5 separate regions of the Homo sapiens genome follow, and regions 2, 3, 4 and 5 are each reported to be linked to region 1. Evidence: microRNA targets listed by miRTarBase, many of them from high-throughput screens and not tested one by one. Region 1 holds a microRNA gene; each other region holds the end of a gene's coding sequence.
Evidence for each region. The annotated mature microRNA hsa-miR-215-5p reads AUGACCUAUGAAUUGACAGAC and lies in region 1 at 1,666-1,686, shown strand. An mRNA with a match to its seed (bases 2 to 7 or 8) in the 3' UTR can be bound and repressed. Matches are read on the target gene's strand: a 7mer-m8 pairs with bases 2 to 8, a 7mer-A1 pairs with bases 2 to 7 and ends in A, and an 8mer does both.

Region 2: miRTarBase lists CHM as a target of hsa-miR-215-5p. Seed matches in the 3' UTR shown: 7mer-A1 at 1,035-1,041 and 7mer-A1 at 3,391-3,397.
Region 3: miRTarBase lists SAYSD1 as a target of hsa-miR-215-5p. The part of its 3' UTR that is shown has no 7-base or 8-base seed match.
Region 4: miRTarBase lists NUCB2 as a target of hsa-miR-215-5p. The part of its 3' UTR that is shown has no 7-base or 8-base seed match.
Region 5: miRTarBase lists FERMT1 as a target of hsa-miR-215-5p. Seed matches in the 3' UTR shown: 7mer-A1 at 2,535-2,541.

Annotation. Positions count from the first base shown.
Region 1 is chr1:220,115,536-220,119,601 of GRCh38, reverse strand. It overlaps MIR215 (microRNA 215), which reads left to right and starts at 1,640; the gene lies at 1,640-1,749. All of the region lies in intron 12 of IARS2 (isoleucyl-tRNA synthetase 2, mitochondrial), which reads right to left. It overlaps MIR194-1 (microRNA 194-1), which reads left to right and starts at 1,361; the gene lies at 1,361-1,445. LOC124904515 (a long non-coding RNA gene) reads left to right here and starts at 489. Exons shown (of 2, transcript XR_007066883.1): 1 at 489-617; 2 at 1,719-1,860.
Region 2 is chrX:85,860,959-85,865,024 of GRCh38, reverse strand. CHM (CHM Rab escort protein) reads left to right here. Exons shown (of 15, transcript NM_000390.4): 15 at 204-3,845. The coding sequence ends at 395. Among named protein-coding and RNA genes, the nearest start is that of MIR1321, 27 kb to the right of the region's middle.
Region 3 is chr6:39,101,670-39,105,735 of GRCh38, forward strand. SAYSD1 (SAYSVFN motif domain containing 1) reads right to left here. Exons shown (of 2, transcript NM_018322.3): 2 at 2,394-4,066. The coding sequence ends at 3,763. Among named protein-coding and RNA genes, the nearest start is that of SAYSD1, 11 kb to the right of the region's middle.
Region 4 is chr11:17,330,779-17,334,844 of GRCh38, reverse strand. NUCB2 (nucleobindin 2) reads right to left here. Exons shown (of 14, transcript NM_005013.4): 13 at 3,862-3,943; 14 at 2,634-3,433. The coding sequence ends at 3,426. Among named protein-coding and RNA genes, the nearest start is that of NCR3LG1, 19 kb to the left of the region's middle.
Region 5 is chr20:6,073,344-6,077,409 of GRCh38, forward strand. It overlaps FERMT1 (FERM domain containing kindlin 1), which reads right to left. Exons shown (of 15, transcript NM_017671.5): 15 at 1,502-4,003. The coding sequence ends at 3,830. Among named protein-coding and RNA genes, the nearest start is that of LRRN4, 21 kb to the left of the region's middle. RefSeq lists a silencer at 942-1,091.

The DNA of each region.
Region 1 (4,066 bases):
ACTTAAAAGATTTCTTAAATAATTTTCTGTTTCCTAAAAAAATTTTTAAACAATTTTCTAACTATTTCCTTGTGATATTTAATATTCTTCAGAAAAAAATGCAGGAAAATTCCTAATTTGTCTGAAATTTAAGAATTCTACCTTCATTTCTTTAACATTGTATACTTAACACAAACTCATAGTTAACCTATAACCCAAAGATCAGTATAAACGACTGCTGATAAAAGTGGGTGAAACCACTTACCAGTATGTAATCTATATGCTTCCATCTTAATGCTTTACTTCATAAAGCAATAAATCCATCATAAAACCTTGTACTTTACTCAAAGGCCTTATCTCAACACATGCATTACGTGTCCCTTCTTAGGTTTCAATCAGTGAAAATCCACTAGGTAGCATGAGCAACTATGACATCAGCCAATCATTCTGAACTTCGATATCAACCGGAATGAGGCTTATTTAGCGTGTTATGGACATTAAGCAGCATTAAGATTACTAAAGCAACAAAGAAACGACTGCTGTCATCCCACTGTCTTCTGTGTTTTGCCTTTATAAGCAAAAATATTGAAGATTATTAAGACAACTTTTCTTCTGTAACTTACTGGAAGAAGAATGAGGTAAGAGGCTAAATGTTTCACATTTGTTTACTAAATTTAATTCTAGAACAATGTGAAATTTGGAAGGGGAAATTCTATTTTTAGTTTAATCCTAGATTTATGTTTTAAAGCTGACAGAAAACCATTTTGAAGAAATTTTTCTTTATTTAATGAACATAAATTTTTTGAACAAAAGGTTTATTATTGTTAACTGAGAAAAAATTTGAGGTAGCTAAAGTTAACACTCAAATTATATTGGAAATTCCTTGGCTATTTTTACTAAATTTCTCATAATTTCCAGAAGTTAGGGGCTAAGTTTCACTATGTTAACTATAGCATTAATAGCATGAAAGTGATTATAACTGTTTGAAATGATGAAAGAAATTTAACCAACTTCTTTTCCTTCCCAGGTAGCCAGTGTTTCTACATTTTATCTTTTTTATGCTAAAAATTATTTCTTCTGTTTTTATTGACTAGTAACAGATTTCAACCCAAATTCTAATGGCATTATCTCACAGATTCAAAAAATGACCAATGACAGTAAAGTCAGAAATGGAATTATTTCTTGATAAAATACAAATATGATCTAAAATGCAAATGACACTATTAATTCAAATCAAAATAAAACATCAGCGTTTCAAATCTACCAGTCCCTAAACTTATTTAGAACATGAATAAATCGAGACTTTCTTCTGTGAAACAAGTATACTTAGAGATATCGTACAGCTCCCATGATGAGCAAAAGGAATCTCCTTATATGTTTAATGGTGTTATCAAGTGTAACAGCAACTCCATGTGGACTGTGTACCAATTTCCAGTGGAGATGCTGTTACTTTTGATGGTTACCAACTTGCTACAATATAAAGGTATAATAAAGAAAGACAGAAAATTGTGGTCACTTGGACTCTCATTTGATTCCAGCAGAAAAAAAGATTTTCAGCCTGTTTTATAAAATTAACAAATGATTAAGAATTAATATCAATTTTCTTAAATTCAAGTTTTGTAACACCAAAAAGATCCAATAATGGAAGAGGATTAAAGTCATCATTCAGAAATGGTATACAGGAAAATGACCTATGAATTGACAGACAATATAGCTGAGTTTGTCTGTCATTTCTTTAGGCCAATATTCTGTATGACTGTGCTACTTCAATATCAGAAATCGACTAACACCACGCAACCAACGCAATGGCAGGTACACAGAAGATAATCTGTAACACTACCATGTAAATGTATTGAGTAAATAAAACATAAATATACCTAATGAAAACTTGTGTTTTTCTGACAAAGCTCATATTTATTTAACCTAACTTACTGACCAGTCAACCTATGTACCATTTAATTATCAGGATGTATCAATTAAACCAGTTTGCTATATTTACTAATACATACATATGATCCACCTCAGAGTCCAGAGGGCTATTCCACCAAGGAATCCCCACCCACCTCAATCACTTCAGTGAAATTCCCTAGACATCTTGCTCTCTAAATAGTGAAAAGAAGAGTAGCCGGGCACAGTGGCTCACGCCTGTAATCCCAGCACTTTGGGAGGCTGAGGCGGGCGGATCACTTGAGGTCGGGAGTTTGAGACCAGCCTGACCAACATGGAGAAACCCCGTCTCTACTAAAAAATATATATATATAAAATTAGCCGGGCGTGGTGGCACATGCCTCTAATCCCAACTACTCAGGAGGCTGAGGCAGGAGAATCACTTGAACCTGGGAGGCGGAGATTGCAGTGAGCTGAGATCGTGCCACTACACTCCAGCCTAGGAAACAAGAGTGAAACTCCATCTCAAAAAAAAAAAAAAAAAAAAAAAAGAAGAGGAGACAATGACATGGCTTATAAAACTTTCCAAAAAAAAAAAAAACTTTCCAGTGTGAAATTTTAAACAAATGTTTGTGGAAACTCGTCTCAGGTATAATCACTTTAATTCTTTTTCTTTTAAACTAAGTCTGAGGCTGGGCATGGTAGCTCATGCCTGTAATCTCAGCACTCTGGGAGGCAGAGGTGGATGGATCCTTTGTGGCCAGGAGTTCGAGACCAGCCTCGTCAACGTGGCAAGAGCCCATCTCTACTAAAAATACAAGAATTAGCCAAGTCAGTGGCGCGTGCCTGTAGTCCCAGCTACTCAGGAGGCTGAGGAGGGAGAATCACTTGAACCTGGGAGGTGGAGGTTGTAGTGAGCCAAGATCACATCACTGCACTCCAGCCTGGGTGACAGAGTGAGACTGTATCAAAAATAAAATAAAATAATCTGAACTGGACAGAATTTACATTAATTCTTAATGTAAGTATTAAGATATTAGTAGTTTACATCTGACCAAGCTCTGTAAGAACACCACAGCAACAATATTTAGATTATTCCTAAAGTCTTACCTCAGATCCAACTTATAATAATATTGAAATAGCTTTCCAATGACTTTCCAGTCTCTAGCCTCTACTTTCTTTTCCTAAAACATACTCTTACTCCTCAAGTCTACTTAAAAGTTTAAACTTCTTAATAGCATAATTTAGAAAAAATTCCATTCACCAAATTAAAAAAAATTGCTCAAAGAAAATGAAAATCTGGAATGTGTTCCTAAAAGGAAGAATTAACATTCCCCTCTCCACATCTGTGAAAAACAGCAACAACACTCAAAGCCTCCCTAATATTACTAGAAGATAAACTAGCTAGACTATTATCTCATTAAAAACAGGGGCCATGTCAGTCTTGTTCACTGTAGCAACTAGCAGTTCCTAGCACTGACACGTACTAAGTGCTTGACAATGTGTTCTGTTTTGTTTCGTTCTGAAGAGACAGTGTCTTGCTCTGTCATCCAGGCTGGAGTGCATTGGCATGATCATAGCTCACTATAACCTCAAACTCCTGGACTTGAGCGATCCTCTCGCCTTAGCCTCCCAAGTCGCTGGGACTACAGGCCCACACTACCACACCAGCTAATTTTTAAATTTTTCTGTAGAGATGGGGTCTCACTGTAATCTTGAACAGCTGGCTTCAAGCAATCCTGCCGCCTTGGCCTCCCAAAGTGCTGGGATTACAGGCATGAGCCACTGTGCCCACATAACAATGTTTCTTAAGTGAATACATGAATAGCTCATCATCTATGGAATACTGTGCTTTACACCAAGTAGTTTGCATTTATTATTTAGTATTCATAACAGTCTACCTGCAACCATTGCTTTTCCTATTTTATAGAGGAGCCAGAGGCTAAGTAAATTCCTCAGTCTCACACACAGTGAATGGCAAAGCCTGGGTTCAAATTCAGTTGCCATTCTCCAAAGCTCACAGATTTCCAAGCAACTTCTCTTTCGAAAAGCACAAAAGGGAGCTGTTCGGGATAAAAGAATTATTCTAAGACACAATTATGATAGTGGCTGTAAAACTTAACAAATTTACTATAAATCACTTATAATAAATGAATTTTTCTTTTTTAATTTTTTTGAGATAGAGTCTCACTCTGTCACC
Region 2 (4,066 bases), not on the chromosome of region 1:
AATACATGTATAGAATTAAAGGGAGAAGTCATAGAATTCTGAAAACAGACTTACGGAAGTTCATGTATTCTGATTAAGTACTGTAGCCTGTTTAAGCAAATTTTTAAGGATAAAACACTTATTTTTTTTTAGTTAATGCCAGAAATGCACACACATTTTAAACCGATTTCCAAAAACGATTTTATCTTTTCTTCCTTGGCCAGGCTGAAACACTTTTCCAGGAAATCTGCCCCAATGAAGATTTCTGTCCCCCTCCACCAAATCCTGAAGACATTATCCTTGATGGAGACAGTTTACAGCCAGAGGCTTCAGAATCCAGTGCCATACCAGAGGCTAACTCGGAGACTTTCAAGGAAAGCACAAACCTTGGAAACCTAGAGGAGTCCTCTGAATAATGGATATACACCAAACTGGATACCCAACTTTGGAAATTCTGACTGGTCTCAGAGTCTACTTGATAGAAGGACTGTTTGAGAAATGTTAGAAAGCAGCAGCAATTATAAGGCAAAATAGGTAATAGAAATCCAAAAGGGGATTTTCCTTATAGAGGACATTCCAAGAACACACAACACTTATAAAGCACATTGACTTGCTCATTTTAAATACCAAACTTGTGTGACTAGCAGATGAAAATTATAAATCAATTGATTCTCAGGAATGTAACTGTGGATATGAAAGTGATCCTATGCATTGTTAATAATTCCATGGTCTTAGGACAATTTTGCTTACCACTTTGGATCTTTGTTTGAAAGCCACATTTTCAGAACCAGCTCATGTATTTTCTTTGGTTATTTGAATTTTATTTTCTTTATGGACAAGAGCATCATAACATAATGATAAAAACATATAGAAAAACTAAAGTATCATGATCTAGATAGAAGCCTGTATTTGGAATACAGGTTTGTTTTGCTTTCTATGTTGAGAAGCATTGAAAATGCTAATATAAAGGTGTTTAGACATTTTTACGAATAAGTCAGTAGTGTTTTTTAGTATCAGTAGTGATATTTGTTTGTAAATTATTTACATATTGGGAAAGGTCAATAATGAAGAAATGAAAGAATGGAAGGAAAGGTGTGGATAGGCTCATTGGTATTTGAATATTCTGTCTGTCAAGTAACTAGAGTATTAGGCTAATTGTCTACAGACCTAATTTAATCCTGGCTGTCCTACTGATGATATTTGGTAAATTGTTTAACTTCTGAGCCTACGTTTCTCCATATATAAAGTGGAAATAGTATTACTATGCCTACTATATGAGAATGGTTATGAAGACAATGCAATGCCATGTTTAGAATCGGTTTGCCAGAAGAAAATTGTTTTAGAATTTTCCCATTGACTTGATGAATCTCAAAAGTCTCACGCAGGAAATAATTGCTTGCTGTCAGTCAACTTCCAAACAAAATAGATCACAGTGTTTTTATTGCATTAAGCTTTTTAAATGAAAATTTCTTTTTTAAAGTAGTATTTTATAGTCTTACAGACCAGTAAAAATAGTAACAAGTAGAATTGTGGTTTTGAAATATTACTAAGGAAAACACTCTATAAATTGTTTTATTCCTTTTCTGGTAGGTAAACCTGCAACCACCAAGGACTCCAAATTGTGTATGACAGTTGGTAAGCCCTAATATACACTACATAAAAACGTTAGGGCTGCCTGTAATCCCAGCACTTTGGGAAGCTGAGGTGGGTAGATCACTTGAGGTCAGGAGTTCGAGACCAGCCTGGCCAACATGGCGAAACCCTGTCTCTACTAAAAATACAAAATTTTAGCTGGGTGTTATGGTGGGCACCTGTAATCCCAGCTACTTTGAAGATGAGGTAGCAGACTCACTTGAACCAGGGAGGCGGAGGTTGCAGTGAGCCAAGATTTTGCCACTGCACTCCAGCCTGGGTGACAGAGCAAGACTCTGTCTCACAAAAAAAAAAAAAGGGGGCTGTACATAGGCAGCAAACTAAGCTGCAGTGATGTTGCCTATATTTAAATTTTCTCAAATGGCCAAGCTCTGATGGTCTACTTTATTTGAGCAATAGTTGAGACTTATAATTGCCTATAAATAAACAAACAAATGAACTATTTGTTTTTTTTTCTCACAACATCTGGCCTATATTGTCTGTCAGGAAGCCATGGCTCCAATGTAAAGTACATAGTTCTTACATACTTCAACTGCAGCTGGTCCCTGACCTCACCAGGTTTCAGAGATGTTCTTAAAGGAAGCCAGCTGTGGCAGGTCACAGATTCATGGGAAATGGAAAGAACCAAGGAATATAGCTCTTGCCTCACCTTTCTACCCACTGCAGATATAGTTCAAGCCAGAGTAATGGAAGAACTTAACTTACTAGCCTCTCAGGCTGCTCCTATCCCTACCTCCCAGTGTACAGCCCCTCCCCATCTCTTTAGTCCCCTTTCCCTCACTTCCCCTTTTATAATGTCACACAAATCAGGGACAGTAGGATCACATTATAACCTACTTTGTCATAGGGATTCGATTTTTCTTATATCAAATCATGTTTCCTGAAACCCAGCTGGGGCATATGCACTCAATGTCTAATACATACTTATTAATGTACCGGATATTGGCCTTGCCCCTGGATATCAGCAATATATTATAAAAGGTTCCAGTAGATGAGACGATTGAGTCTGAATACAATTGCAGTAAATTGTGCCAATAAAGATATTGTACTGTTACGGTCTTAGAGTTAAAGCCGCTTGAATGCAGCATGCACATTCATGTAAACAGACAATCAGGGTAGGCCTAGAATAACCACAAAAATTCTATTGGCCTTACTGCAGCCACCTATATGTAGAACAATGGAGGAGATAGTTTGTGGTCCATTATTGTACCCTGTTTCATCCATTAGCATCAGAATCTCTCTTTCAGGTCATTTATTAAATATGATTGAAATGTTTAAAAGTTCCTGAACATGATTCATGATGATTAAAATATCATACAACTGATAAAAGACTTTAAGAACTTTATATATTTCCTGTTGCCTCAAAATGTAACAGAAATTATTCTTAGAGCTTTGATTTTAGCTATCCTAATTACTGCAAATAAATATTTGTTCTTATAGTTTTAAATCAAAAAGAAAAGTCTTGTTATAAAACCTTAAGCTTGAAATCATATTAATAAAATATATTGTACATAGTGGAAAATTTTCAGTAGCTAATTTAAAATTTCAGAAAATGCTATTAAAGAATTTTGATTCAAGTATTTAAACTGTTTAGTTATGCATGCTTCTTATTAACCGAAAATGATAATACCATTTAGTTTAGTGATCAGTATGAGAAGCAATACCTAATCCTATGTTGCTATTGTATTTTTTCCTAGTTGGTGTGCCTGCTCAGAAAAACATATACTGTATGTGTATACATACCTGTGTATATATAAAAGGTCAATTTATATATTTTTCTATAGGAAAATGGAGTAACAAGTTCCCTATCTCCCATATTTATTTGTCCATAGTAAAATGGCCACATTGATGATAATTTCTAGAACTAGTTTCTGAGATTGTCAGCCCTTTGTCTAAAATAATGGCAGTATTAATGATTGACTTCTGTCACTGCCATAGTTACCTGGATTGTCAGCCTTGGTAGCCTTTGTCTAAAGTCCTAAAGAGTTCCAAAAAAAATGTGTTGAAATTTAATTGCTAAATAGTGGTTGGTGATTCTTTACAGTAGGAATTGTAATAATTTTCTTGCAAATAAGTTATTTACTGCTATTGATATTGAATAATTTGTCTTTTATTCAGATATATTTCAAAAAGCATGAATATATGATTATTCATAAATTGTATACTTTACCAGTAAGTTTTCAGAGGAAATAAAGACTTTTAAATCCTTTTCAGTCATGGTGTCATATTTTGTAATACTTGCATCTTTTATATATGCCAAGAATTTGAAGATTGCCTTTAACCTGATTTATGTTTTAATATTAGTCTAGTATGTAAATACTTAATTGTCAAGCTGTATATTTGGTTTTGTTTTTAGGCATCTGCCAACTGTGCTAAGTTTGTGAGAAAGGCAATGAAATAATATAGGGGCATGAGCTACTTTGCAAACTGTTCT
Region 3 (4,066 bases), not on the chromosome of region 1:
CTGGGAGGCTGTTAAAATGCAGATTCTCAGGATTCTACCCTCAGACATTCTGAGTCAGTGGGGGCCCTGGAATCTGCATTTTAACATTACTACAGGAGATTCCTATGCAGGTGCGTGGTCTATAGACCATACTTTTCAAAACGTTCATCCATGACTTGTTAAGGAAAGAGTATTTTTCACATAGAAGTGAAAATCCTATATAGTATAGAATTTAGGACTGCAAGTGATCTCTCCCTTGAACACACACACACACACCTTACACCTTTATAAACATTCACATTATGTCCTGTACTTTATAATACAGTTTGTGTGCACTCATCTTGTCTTCTCTCTCAGATTTTTGAGAATGGGATCCAAGTCTTTATGTAGCCTAGTGCTCCAAAGTTGTGAAATAAAATTATGTGTGATAGAAACCAAAGCATATGGTTCAAAAGTTACTTTCTTTGGCTTAGGGAGTTGGTTTTCTCTGCCAACTATGTAAATTCTTAGTCATTCCACCTCCCCTTCCCGCAAAGCTTAGCTATGTGCAAGCAACTGTAACACTGCCTGCTAAGTCTAGAGAGGGGCTGCTGTTTTATTTTTAAATACATATATAAATCACTTCTGGTAGCTTTCTATGCCTTTCCCAGGACCTCTGATGGGCCCTTTCCTCTGTGAGTTTTAAACTGAAAAAAACATCTGAAAAAGCAGCACAAGCGGTTGAGATAAACATCCCAGAGGGTTTTCCACATTACGTAAATTTTCAAGTGTGATGTGAAGGGACCCGTGAGGTATAGTGGCAGCTCTACGCCACCGCCTGGCGGCAACATGCTTCATGACATCCCAACCCCACCCCTGCATCCCCGGGCTCTTAGGGACGCTCATCCTATGCAGGAGCTCATATGTGTGTGTCCCCAGCAGCGCCAAATCCAGGGCATCTACAAATATTTGCTGGTATGAGTGGCAGGAACTAAAAACACACAGCTCGAATTTTGATGTCTTCTGCCCAACTGAGGGTCACTGGTTCTTTCAATTCTGTAACTTTCTAAGATTTTGCAGCACAGAGCTTTTTGATTGACGCACAGATCAGTCAAAAGGCAAATGTGAAAGACAGCCTATACTCAAAGCATAACTCTAATAGCACAAAATACACATGCCTAAGTCATCACTGGCAAAGCTCCAAAGCTTTTGAGAAAGATCATTATACCCATCCACAGGGCCACTCACCCCCACCCAAACCTGAAACACTTAGAATAGGTCAGGGCTAGCATGAAAGTGATTGAGTCCCAGAGGTATAGCTCAATGACTTGGCCTAAAGAGCAGAGAGAAAAGAGAACTGAGTAAAGGTTTACCAGTGTGAAGGATGCTCACATAGGCCTCCAGGGACTCCACATCCACTGAGATTAGGAGACAAAATAACCCCAGATGGCGGGGATGGGGGTGGCAAAAGTTCTTTCAGTAAACATAAAGAACTTCCTAGGAAGTACCTGGAATCTTCTTTAGGGGTTCACTAGAAACAAATTATCTTTAGTTGGGAATAAATGATGGCCCTGCCCAAGGTTGGGGGTGGGGAACACACTTGATGGTATTTTGGGGTCCCTTCCAACTTTAGATGTAGAGTCTTGTTGAACAGTCCCTATCAATAGGCAAGATGGGATAATGTGAATAAAAGCAAAAACCAAGTTACTTGTTAGACTTGGACACAAACGACTTCACTCGTGTATAAAGCTATCACAGTGACTGCATCTACCTCTGGGATTTCAAGTTCCCTGATGACAGAAGAATCCTTTAATGGAAGCTGCATGCTGGGTTAATGGTCAGGCTGTGAGTGGAAATTCTGAGATCAATAGGCCTAAATTCGGAAAATCAAGGCTGCACCTAAAACCTAATGGTCTGATCAGAGCACCAAATACTTATTGTTCTTTCTTCTTCTCCCTGCCAGGCCATTAATTGATTCACACACTATTTTTCCTAGAAGTTAATGCCATCATTACATGCACCTTTGGTAAGAGGTTAGAAGTGACAAATTGTTCACAGAAAATCTCATGCAAGATGGGTTTGAGGCAATCTAGACTCCACCTCAAAAACAGCTGCATTTCAAAAATCACTACTGAGGTCCACCCATAGGTCAAGTCTCATGCGTGCTTAAGTCTTTACCCCACTGGGATTACTAATTGGATCAAACCTAATTCAGAGTTACAGGCATTTTGTTTTAGGGGAAAGTCTGAATTATATGTTTTTAAAATACAAATTAGTTCTTTCCTACAGCAATGCTTACTGCCCTGAGCACTGCAGTAAAACTTAAGATTAGGGAATTACTCCCTTGTATGGGGCTTTTATGAAACAGAAAAGCCCAAGGAAAGTATCAAGAAAATTAAGAAAGCCTTAAGAAAATAAATCAGTCAACAAAATTGTATCTTAAATACAATCAAAACTTCATGTTTAATAGGGATTCATCTGTTTCCCATACTTTTTACATGTTCAGTTCAGACAGAACTCATGGAAGAAAAGACTTTTCTGTGAGATAGAACAGACCATCTGCTTGACCGGATGGCTCTGAGGGACAGCCAAACTCCCAATGGCCAAAGGGCTGTGAGGAAGGGCAACACATATCAGAAGAATTTTCAGCAAGGGCTGAAACACAGTAAGGTTAGCCACAAAATGGAATGAGAGAAGCCCTAACCCAATGGGAGTTTGCCTAATTTTAATGAACCCAAACTCTAACATTGTACTGGAAAAGCAGCATTAAAATCCAGCCTGATTATCACAATTTACAGAATTTCTCACCAGAGGCCCACAGGTGAAAAAGCTGCTTACTCTAAAGCCCTTAGAACCGTATTGTGAACTGCGCATGCGAGGGATCTAGGTTGCGTGCTCCTTATGAGACTCTAATGCCTGATGATCTGAGGTGGAAGTTTCATCCTCCACCACCACCCCGTCCATGGAAAAACTGTGTTCCACAAAACTGGTCCCTGGTGCCAAAAAGGTTAGGGACTGCTGCTTTAGAATATAAGAAACAACTCAAGCAGCCAACGGGTCTGGAGTTAACACTTCCAGCCCTCCCCTTTGTACACACTCAACACTTCTTGCTGAACTGGCCGTTAATAACCACTTGTGAAATCCCTCCCCACACCTGCACTTAGGCGTTTGTCTCTTCCTACCTTCCTTTACTGAGTAGTGGCAAAATAATAGGAGAGTGGAAGATGGTGATGGGCAATGAAGAGGGACCTATTTCTGAAGAGGAGATGTTTTAAAGATATTTTATTTTTCAATACCAGTAATGACTGAAAATTAAAGAATTAAAGCAGGAAGCAAAACAAAAACAAACAAGAAACCCAAAACTTGCAACCTAAACTCTCCGGGAAAAAAAAAATTGCTATAAATGTTAAAAGACTTAAAGAGAACATTGACAATGCAGCCCTGATGTACCTAATCATACTTCAAACTGCTGGATGTTTTAAGCTGAGAATCTCCCCAGTGCCTTTCTAGTGCTCTAAAATCATCTCCCAAACAGATGAGAAATGAAACAAACAGGTCTCCCTTCTTGAGTACATAATTTTTATAAATTGCGTCGGACCCACAGTGAATGTATTTTAGAGAGTTTCACCAAAACTATCAAAGATCAAATGGCAGCAAAAGATCAGGGAAAGAAGGTAGAAAAACTATGCAGTCACAGAGCTAACCCGCAAGCTGCCCTTAGTCCTATACACCTGAAATCAAATCCATAGCCAATGGTGAGGAAGACCACATCAGAGGTTAGCTGCATGACAGCACAGCTGGGTCCTATCTCCCTGCCAGGGGTCTCAACTGTAACTCGCGCTCCAACTGCTCTGCAGTCAGGGTGCCCTGGATGGCTTCACAGCCTGGATTGAACACAGAGTAGGCGCTCTTCTCTCCCTCTTTCTTCTCTTCAGGGCCTCGTGTCCCGACGTACATCCAATAGAACAAGGACAGGACAAAATATGCCAGGCCAAATTCCAGTTCCACAAACAGTCCCAGCAGGACCAACCAGAGAAGAACCTTCAAGAAGGTGATATTGGTCAGGAAAGACTGGTCCCAGCACGACGGCAGAGGAATGGCTGTGTTC
Region 4 (4,066 bases), not on the chromosome of region 1:
GCATGATTTCAGCTCACTGCAACCTCCACCTCCCAGGCTCAAGCAATTCTCCTGCCCCAGCCTCTTGAGTAGCTGGGACTATAGGTGTGCACCATCACACCCAGCTAATTTTTGTATTTTTAGTAGAGATGGGGTTTCACCATGTTGGCCAGGCTGGTCTGGAACTCCTAACCTCAGGTGATCCACTCACCTTGGCTTCCCAAAGTGCTGGGATTATAGGCGTGAGCCACCATGCCCGGCCTAGGGTAGCTTTTAACATGCATTCCTGTCACACAGAGGTAGGAAAGTTGAACATTATATTTCCCAACCTCCTTTGCAGCTAGGGTTTCAGATATGATTGGTCCAGTCCATCAGATTCACTCACTTGAGACTTTTACTCAGAGCCAAGTAACGTGGGGACAGAGGCAGGAAGAGATGTATCTATTTTTGCTGGCATAAAGCATGGCAGAGGTGGTGTGGCTCTGGAACTGGCAACTGTTCAGCAGGCAGCTTCCTAATCCAGCAGGCAGCTTCTTGATTGTTCTAAAAGCAGCAGCTCTTTCAGCAGCCTACTCTTGTGACATAATTCCTAGAAGCTCAGCCTAGATCTGTTTCTTCAACCCTCCCATTGATTCTGTGACCTATATATACTCATTCATCAATTCCCTTCTGTTTAATAGCTAAAGAAGATTTCATTGCTTACAGCCAAGAATCTTGACCTATACAGAATTTGGCAGCTAGAAGTAAAGCACAGCAAGTCGAAGGCCCTAAATCTGGGGTTGGCTTAGTTGAGGAGGTAGGGCTTTGGGCAGTGAGACTTCTTGCCAACAGAAGTCAAGGTGAGGTTGAGACTTCCTGCCACAGAGACGAAGGTGGTAGAACTTCAGAGTGCTAGCATGTGTTGGCTGCTTCTTGCCTCTTTTCAGCAAAGCCCTACAAGAGATATGTGACTTGGACTAAGATTAACAAGTCTGCAGTGACGCAAGGGAAAAATAGCTTTGCTGAGAGAATTGCTCTTTGTCTACCATATAAATTGACCAAGTCCCAAATCTGGAGCCCTGAAGAATTGAAAACTGTACTCCAAACTGAAACATTTATAAGTAAAGGCTCTGAGGGAGCTACTAAAACTTTCTCAACCTTTTTTAAGAACCTTCCCTTAAGAATTTTCTGCCAAATAATAGGAGCCATCCTAGGGGAAGAGATCAGATTAAGACTGTTGCCATTCCATGCAAGCCTACAGTCTCAAAGGATCTCAAGGAGGTACCATTCCTGTAAGAACAAAGGGGATGGAGAGCACACAGAGGCCAGCAAGTAAATGATGAGGTTCTTTGTTAAAAACAATGTATTTTACCTTGGTTAATACTGTCCATGTAAATGACTGAAGACAACAGACCAGAAACTTACTAAAGTTTTAGGAATCCACTTGGCCAAGAAACAGAACAAAACAACAACAAAAACCCAAACCTGGCCTGCAATAGACTGTAGCTGTTACGGATCTATACTCTAATTCCCAAGCCTGCCCCCAGACTCACAATTATAGGAAGTAAACTGCTAAGGCTGCCCAGCCTCCAAGAAGGGTATACTTTCCAATGCCCATTCAGATTGTGTCTGAAAATTAATGTACAATAAAAACCTCCAAGAAAGTAAAACCAAGGCCCCCTGAGGACATTAGGTAAAGGAATTCCTCTCAGAAAGGTGAATCAGGGGTTGCCTGATAGGCAAACCAAGGAATATATTCATGAACTATAGCAGAGAGATTTAATTATTTTTGCCAAGTGGTACTTTCAAATTGCTATGGATCAGTGGCCACTATATTTCTATTTCTCCCTTTTTCTAAAAGGTCAATTTTAGGGATCTTGGGCATGGTGGCTCACACCAGTGATCCCAGTGCTTTGGGAGGCTGAGGTGAGAAGATTGCTTGAGACCAGGAGTTTAAGACCAGCCTGAGCAACATAGCAATACTCCATCTCTACAAAAAAAAATGTTTAGCCAGGCGTTCGTGGCATGTGCCTGTAGTCCTAGCTACTAGGGGGACTGAGGTGGAAGGATCACTTGAGCCCAGAAGTTCAAGGCTGCAGTAAGCTATGATCACACCACTGTACTCTAGACTGGACAACAGAGTAAGACCCTGTCTCTAAAAAATTTAAAAGGTCAGTTTTCCTGCACCTTTGCATTATGCATCTGGTGCTCTCAGGGCAGAAAACTTGTCTTTCAGTTTGTAGGTGGCCAGAACACAAGGAGCCACACCCTAACATGATGGAGGGGACTGTCTCCAGATAGCATGGTCTTTCATCTAGTATGCAATAATGGGCTGGATTTCTGGTGGTTTCTCTTCAGGGAGAGAGGGGTGAGTGTTTTCTCTCTCGGAAGAAGAAGGTACACAGAATTTAGGTAGCCAACAAGGCTGGCTGAGTTTAAAATCCAAAGTTGCCTACCAAACATTCCCTCTTCCCTTCTTCCTTAGTAAAAGAATCCAACTTTTAGCTGGTCACATTGCCACATTGACTTCTCAGCCTCCCTAGCAGCTAGGTGTGGCCATCAGTGTGACCCAGTTCTGGTCGAAACATAAGTTCAGGTGCTGCTGGTTCTGGAAAATGGCCTCAGGGAAGCTAACTCAAGCAGAGAAAGTCCAGTTTTCTTGCCTTCCCCACTGCCTCCAGGAGCAAACTTGAACAGTGAGAGTGAGGTAATCTGAGGATAAAAATCATGCACTGAGGATAGCAGAGCAGAAAGATAGGAACCTGGACACCACCTACTTCTAGACTTATGTAAGAAGAAAAACTCCTATTTAGTTTAAACCACTGTTATCTTTGTTTTTTCTGTTATATGTAACATAACCTAATCTTAAATGATAAAGTATAGAGCAAAATAAAAAAGAATGAAAAATGACCTGAAGTGGTAGCAAAAGTGATTCAGGTGAAGAATTTCTAGCAGTTGAGGTTGCCAAAACTAGAAAAACGTTACCAGGAAACACAGGGAAATACTGTGGCCTTTCCAGAATTGTTAATATCAAACAGACATTTATTGAAAGAAGGAATGATAAGCACCCATAAAAGAATACCTATGTTTACGAGTAAGTGAGAGCAATCTAATTTAAAAGCAAGAGGCAGAGTTTTCTCACTTAAATAGTTCCTAATAGTTTCACTAAATTATGGCATAAAGCCACTTAATTAAATCATTAAAGGAGAACAAAAAAATAAATAAAAGAGCCGTGTGAATGTGAGAGCAGAGAGCAGACAGTGAGTTTGTTTTCTTCCTGGTTCTGATAAACTTCAATCCTTTAATATCTGTGTCCCAAAAAAAGTGTTTTCATTTAAAAAGTATCTCCCTTTATTTCAAATATGCTTTTAAAATATTTATTGAGCAGAGAAAAAGGAAGGGAGCTAAAAAGATGAAATAGATGTTGAGTTAACAGCTTTCTTCCAAGTTCTGGTGGACTTCAGACTTTAAATGTCTGTTGGAAAAAAGAAAAAAGTTCTTATTTTAAAAGTATCTTCCTTTATTCTAAATGTTCCTTCATATACAAATATACTTGTTTTAAAAAATATGCTTAGCTAATCATAGATCACAATTTTAAAAAACATATTCTCTGGTAAGATTAATATAATTAGAAAGAATTACAAATAAAGTTGAAATAAATCATTTTACCATAAATATGGTTATCAAATTATACAAATGATACAGCACTTAAAATTTGCTGCTACATAAAACTTTTGGAGGCATTTTCATTTTTCTATAATCTAAATTGCTCTAATACCACAAAAAATACACAAAAAATAACATAACATCTTAATGATTTGAAATTATATTTGTAATAAATGTGGATTTCAATTGATAAAATAATTTATTTTCCTAAATAAATAATCAAACAAAATTACACACGTGGCTCAAACTTCAATTCTCCAGCTGGCCCTGATGGAGGAATTCCTTGTTGTAATTTTTTTTGTTCCATCTGCTGTATGACCTGGTGAATGGAAAATGAAAGTTAAAAGTATAACTTGATTTTCTATCATATGTGTGACCTTTGACAAAGCACAACAAAGTAAATGAAAATTGTTTTCTAAAACAAAGATATTCAAACTATAAG
Region 5 (4,066 bases), not on the chromosome of region 1:
GTGTGATGGCATGATCATAGCTCACTGCCACCTTGAACTCCTGGAGCTCAAGGGATCCTCTCATCTCAGCCTCCCAAGTAGCTAGGACTACAGGCATGTGCCACCATGCCCAGCTAATTTTTTAAAATCTTTGTAGAGATGGGGTCTTGCTGTGTTGCCCAAGCTGGTCTTGAACTCCTGGGCTCGGGTAAGCCTCCTGCCTTGGCCTCCCAAAGTGCTGGGATTACAAGGTGAGCCACTATGCCCAGCCCCCAAAAATAAATCTTGTGAGTTAAAAATAAAATTTTAAAGTGATTTTAGAAGACAGATATTATAAAATATCTTGACTTCTTGTATTAAATGAGTTTTCAAATTAAAGCTTCCTCATTTCCTTACTTTTCTGACCGTGGGACTAAAAATGAAACTTTCCCAAAATTAAGCACGGTGGCTCACGCCTGTAATCCCAGCACTTTGGGAGGCCGAGGCAGGCGGATCACCTGAGGTCAGGAGTTCAAGACTAGCCTGACTAACATGCAGAAACCCCGTCTCTACTAAAAAAAATACAAAATTAGCCAGGCGTGGTGGTGCATGCCTGTAGTCCCAGCTACTCGGGAGGCTGAGGCAGGAGAATCGCTTGAACCTGGGAGGCGGAGGTTGTGGTTAGCTGAGATCACGCCATTGCTCTCCAGCCTGGGCAACAAGAGTGAAACTCCATCTCAAAAAACAAAAACAAAAATTAAAACAAAGAAAAAAACAACAACACTCTAAGCACCTCATTTCTCTGGCTCCCAGACCTTTTTGGTCCAGCCTCTCCTCCCACAGCTAACTGCTCTTAATGCCCCTGGTTCTCTCTTACTGGTATGAGCCTGAGCTCAGGAACGCCTGCTCTGGAGCTAGGGTAAGGGGCATTTCAAGGCTGGGCAAGGCTGGGAAGGAAGGGTGGGGTTTGCTGGGTTAAGCTTAGTGGCTTCTGGAGTCAAGACAAACACTGCTCATTGGCAGTGTGACCCTGGGCAAGTTCACCTTCTGAACCTTTCTCCTTTGTAGAGGAAGCCATTTCTACCCTCTGTGGGCTGACAGGAGAATTGCACAAAGGGATATCTATAAACTGCATGTCACTAAAGCAAAGTGCCCTCAACACTCAGCCATCAGAATCAGAGGCTTCTGCTGTTCTATTGCCGCTGGGGATCTTTGCTTGCTGGTGTGTGTGTGTGTGTGTGTGTTTTAATATAGAACTGGAAAGAGACAAAAGAGCTCATGATAAGGCAGGATATGCCAGGAAATCTGTGACCAAGTCAGTGAGAAAGGAGTTGAAACCAGCGGGTAAGTGAGGTTTCTAAGGGGCTCTCTGAGGACCCCTGGAATCTGCCACTCCCCACACCACGGGAGGGAACGACCCGGAATCTTGGCGCTGTGAGGAGAGACACATGTTAGACCTCAGAGTTGCAGTCCCTTTTCATAAGAGAGGAAAAAGTCACCTTTTTGGAGACAGTAGGTTGGAGAGGACACAACAGGACCGTACTCAAATCCATATAAATCTTTTACTTAAAAGTCATATAAAAGAATAAAAAATGCAGATTTCTGAATCAACTGTAGATAAGGAAGCAAATGATGTTGAAAGGTGCCCATTAATTTAAAATTTCATCATAGGAATTTGGGTGACCTTTTGCACTCAGTATTAAAAAAAACCATCAAGTTGCTCTTTGGAACAGTAGCATTTAGGTTTGTTTTTTTTTTTTTTTGTCACACTTGTTTATTTCTTTGGGATGTTGCTGTGTGTCATGGAAGAAACGCTCCCCTGAAAACTGTAACCAAACAAAGTTTGGTTAAAACAAAGTTGGTTCCTTTGTTTTCATGGAAATGTCAGACAACTATGAAAAGCTAAGGAAGCATGTTGAACTGAAGGTCTGGCTTTGGTAAATTAGGCAGAGATGTTCTCAGCAGCAAACAGGTAAAATCTGACATCGAGAAGCATTATTTTAATGTAGGACCAGTTATAATCTTAAAGAACTGACTAGGTTCTAAAATAATAGAACTGAGAAATAGGACTGAGAAATGACCAACATCAAGTATATACGGTACACTTAGCACTTGTTTCTATAGAAAACATTTCAAATCAAGTTCTTTATGATGTGAACCAGATTTTCCAAATGCCTAAACCACTTCTGAGCTTTAAGCAAGGCCTCAGAAATTCAGCGGGTGCCTGGGAGGCTTCATTCACATTCACCTCTAAGGAGAGGCTAAAAGAGGAATTTCCAGATGGCAGCTACTGGCTCAGAACCAGGGGGTCCCTTGCCAAGTCTGTCTCTATGTGGCTCCCGGAATTGCTGAGGTCTCACTTCTCAGAGGGCTTTGATGGAAAATAAAGCAACAGCTGACGCTCACGGGCCTCGGAACTCTGGCCAGGCTCCCTGAGGGGTGCATCCTAGGAGAACTGAAAAATGGGATTGGAGCTTTTGCCTTATCCTTACACCCCAAGTTCTTTGTGTGGCAGAACATCTATGAAAAAATAATAAAATATTGTCTGATATTTCCCTTTACTTCTGGTATTGCTTTTGACCTTCTCAAAACCCACCCCTCCCACCTCTAACAAACCAAAATGGAAAATGACAATTCAGGCAGCTGTTAATTGGCTCACTCTCTCAAGGCAAGCACTGTCTCAAGGCAGTCTCAAGGCAGAGATGACACAGCAAAAAACAGAGGGGGAGAAAAAAGTCTATTATTGGCTTGTGATTTACAAAAGCCAAAGTCCTTTAGATAAAAGGCCAGGAGTCGTACCAACATAGATACCAAATCCAGGAGAACACAGACCAGCGATAAGAGGGACGCTTCCCCATGACCCAGACCAGCCTAAAGCCCCTGTGGGGGCAGCCAGTGGGGAGCTGTCAGACCTTGGACATGGTGGTCTTTGAGAATGGGTCTGCCCTTCTCTCCCTGACCAGTTGGGATAGACACCTGACTGGAATCCTTGACACTGGCAGGTGTTTCTATGAACAGAGAGGACTGTGCCTGTCTTCCTGAATCCCAACCCAGAGTAGAAGCAGTGGAGACATGGATCTGGGTTGAGAAATGGGTTTTCCTGTCCCCCTGTGTCACCCACATCTTCACAAAGGACTTACAGGTGGCTGAGAGATCTGTAGGAATGGAATGGGGCTTGCAGGTGGCCCCAGAAATCTGAGGAGACCAATGACTAAGACCAGATGTGGGTCAGTGGTCATCTTGGCAGGTATCACTGTGGACAGATGACACTGAGGGCCACTCCTCTGACCTTGGGTTGTCAACTGCTACCTGGTAGCCCCACCCCTCCCCTTTCTACCCCTAGACCTTGGCCTCCAGGGAAAAAGTGTGTGTAGGAACTCCCTCTGCCATTTTGAAAAGACAGGAGCTAAAAGCAGTTCCATGAAGGACAGGCGTTTCGTTTCATACCTGAGTTTGTGAAATAAGAGTTGTTCTTGCTACACGTGATTTTTACCTTTCTGTCTTCTCCATTGACTTAGTAATGAGACAGATCAGCACGAGGATAACTTGTAGCCATACACCTGGCAGGTTCTGCAAGTCAGAGAACTGTAACCACATGCTGGGCCTTAGAGCAATCTTAGGGCACCTGCTTTTCTCCTGCCTACCCATTTTATAGAAAAAACAAGAGAGGCTCCTTCCGTGGCTGGTAGCACAGGGCAAAGTAAGGAAAGGGATGTGCCAGCAGTGGGTTTGAATGAGGATCTGGGTGACCAGCGGTGAATGTATGTTGTCTGTTAGTCCAGAATCTACATGCTGGGCACGTTAGGGATCCCTCTGGGGAGGGGCGCCTTTGGCTTGCCTTGTTGGTGTGAGCCGAGCACGCGTGCTTGTTTCAATCCTGACCGCCGGTCAATTTGTGGAACAAGTCCTCATCGAGTGTTTCATTCTGGTCCTTGGAGCGGGTGGACAAGAAAATGTAGCCGCCAATGTACTCGTGCACAATCTTGCAATCTGCACTCAGGCAGGTGAAAGCAGTAAAGACGTTTTGGTCAAACTCGATGACCACCTGGAAGAGGAAGGCACAGAGAAGCTTAAACTCTGACAAGGAATGATGAAAAAAAAAGTGCTT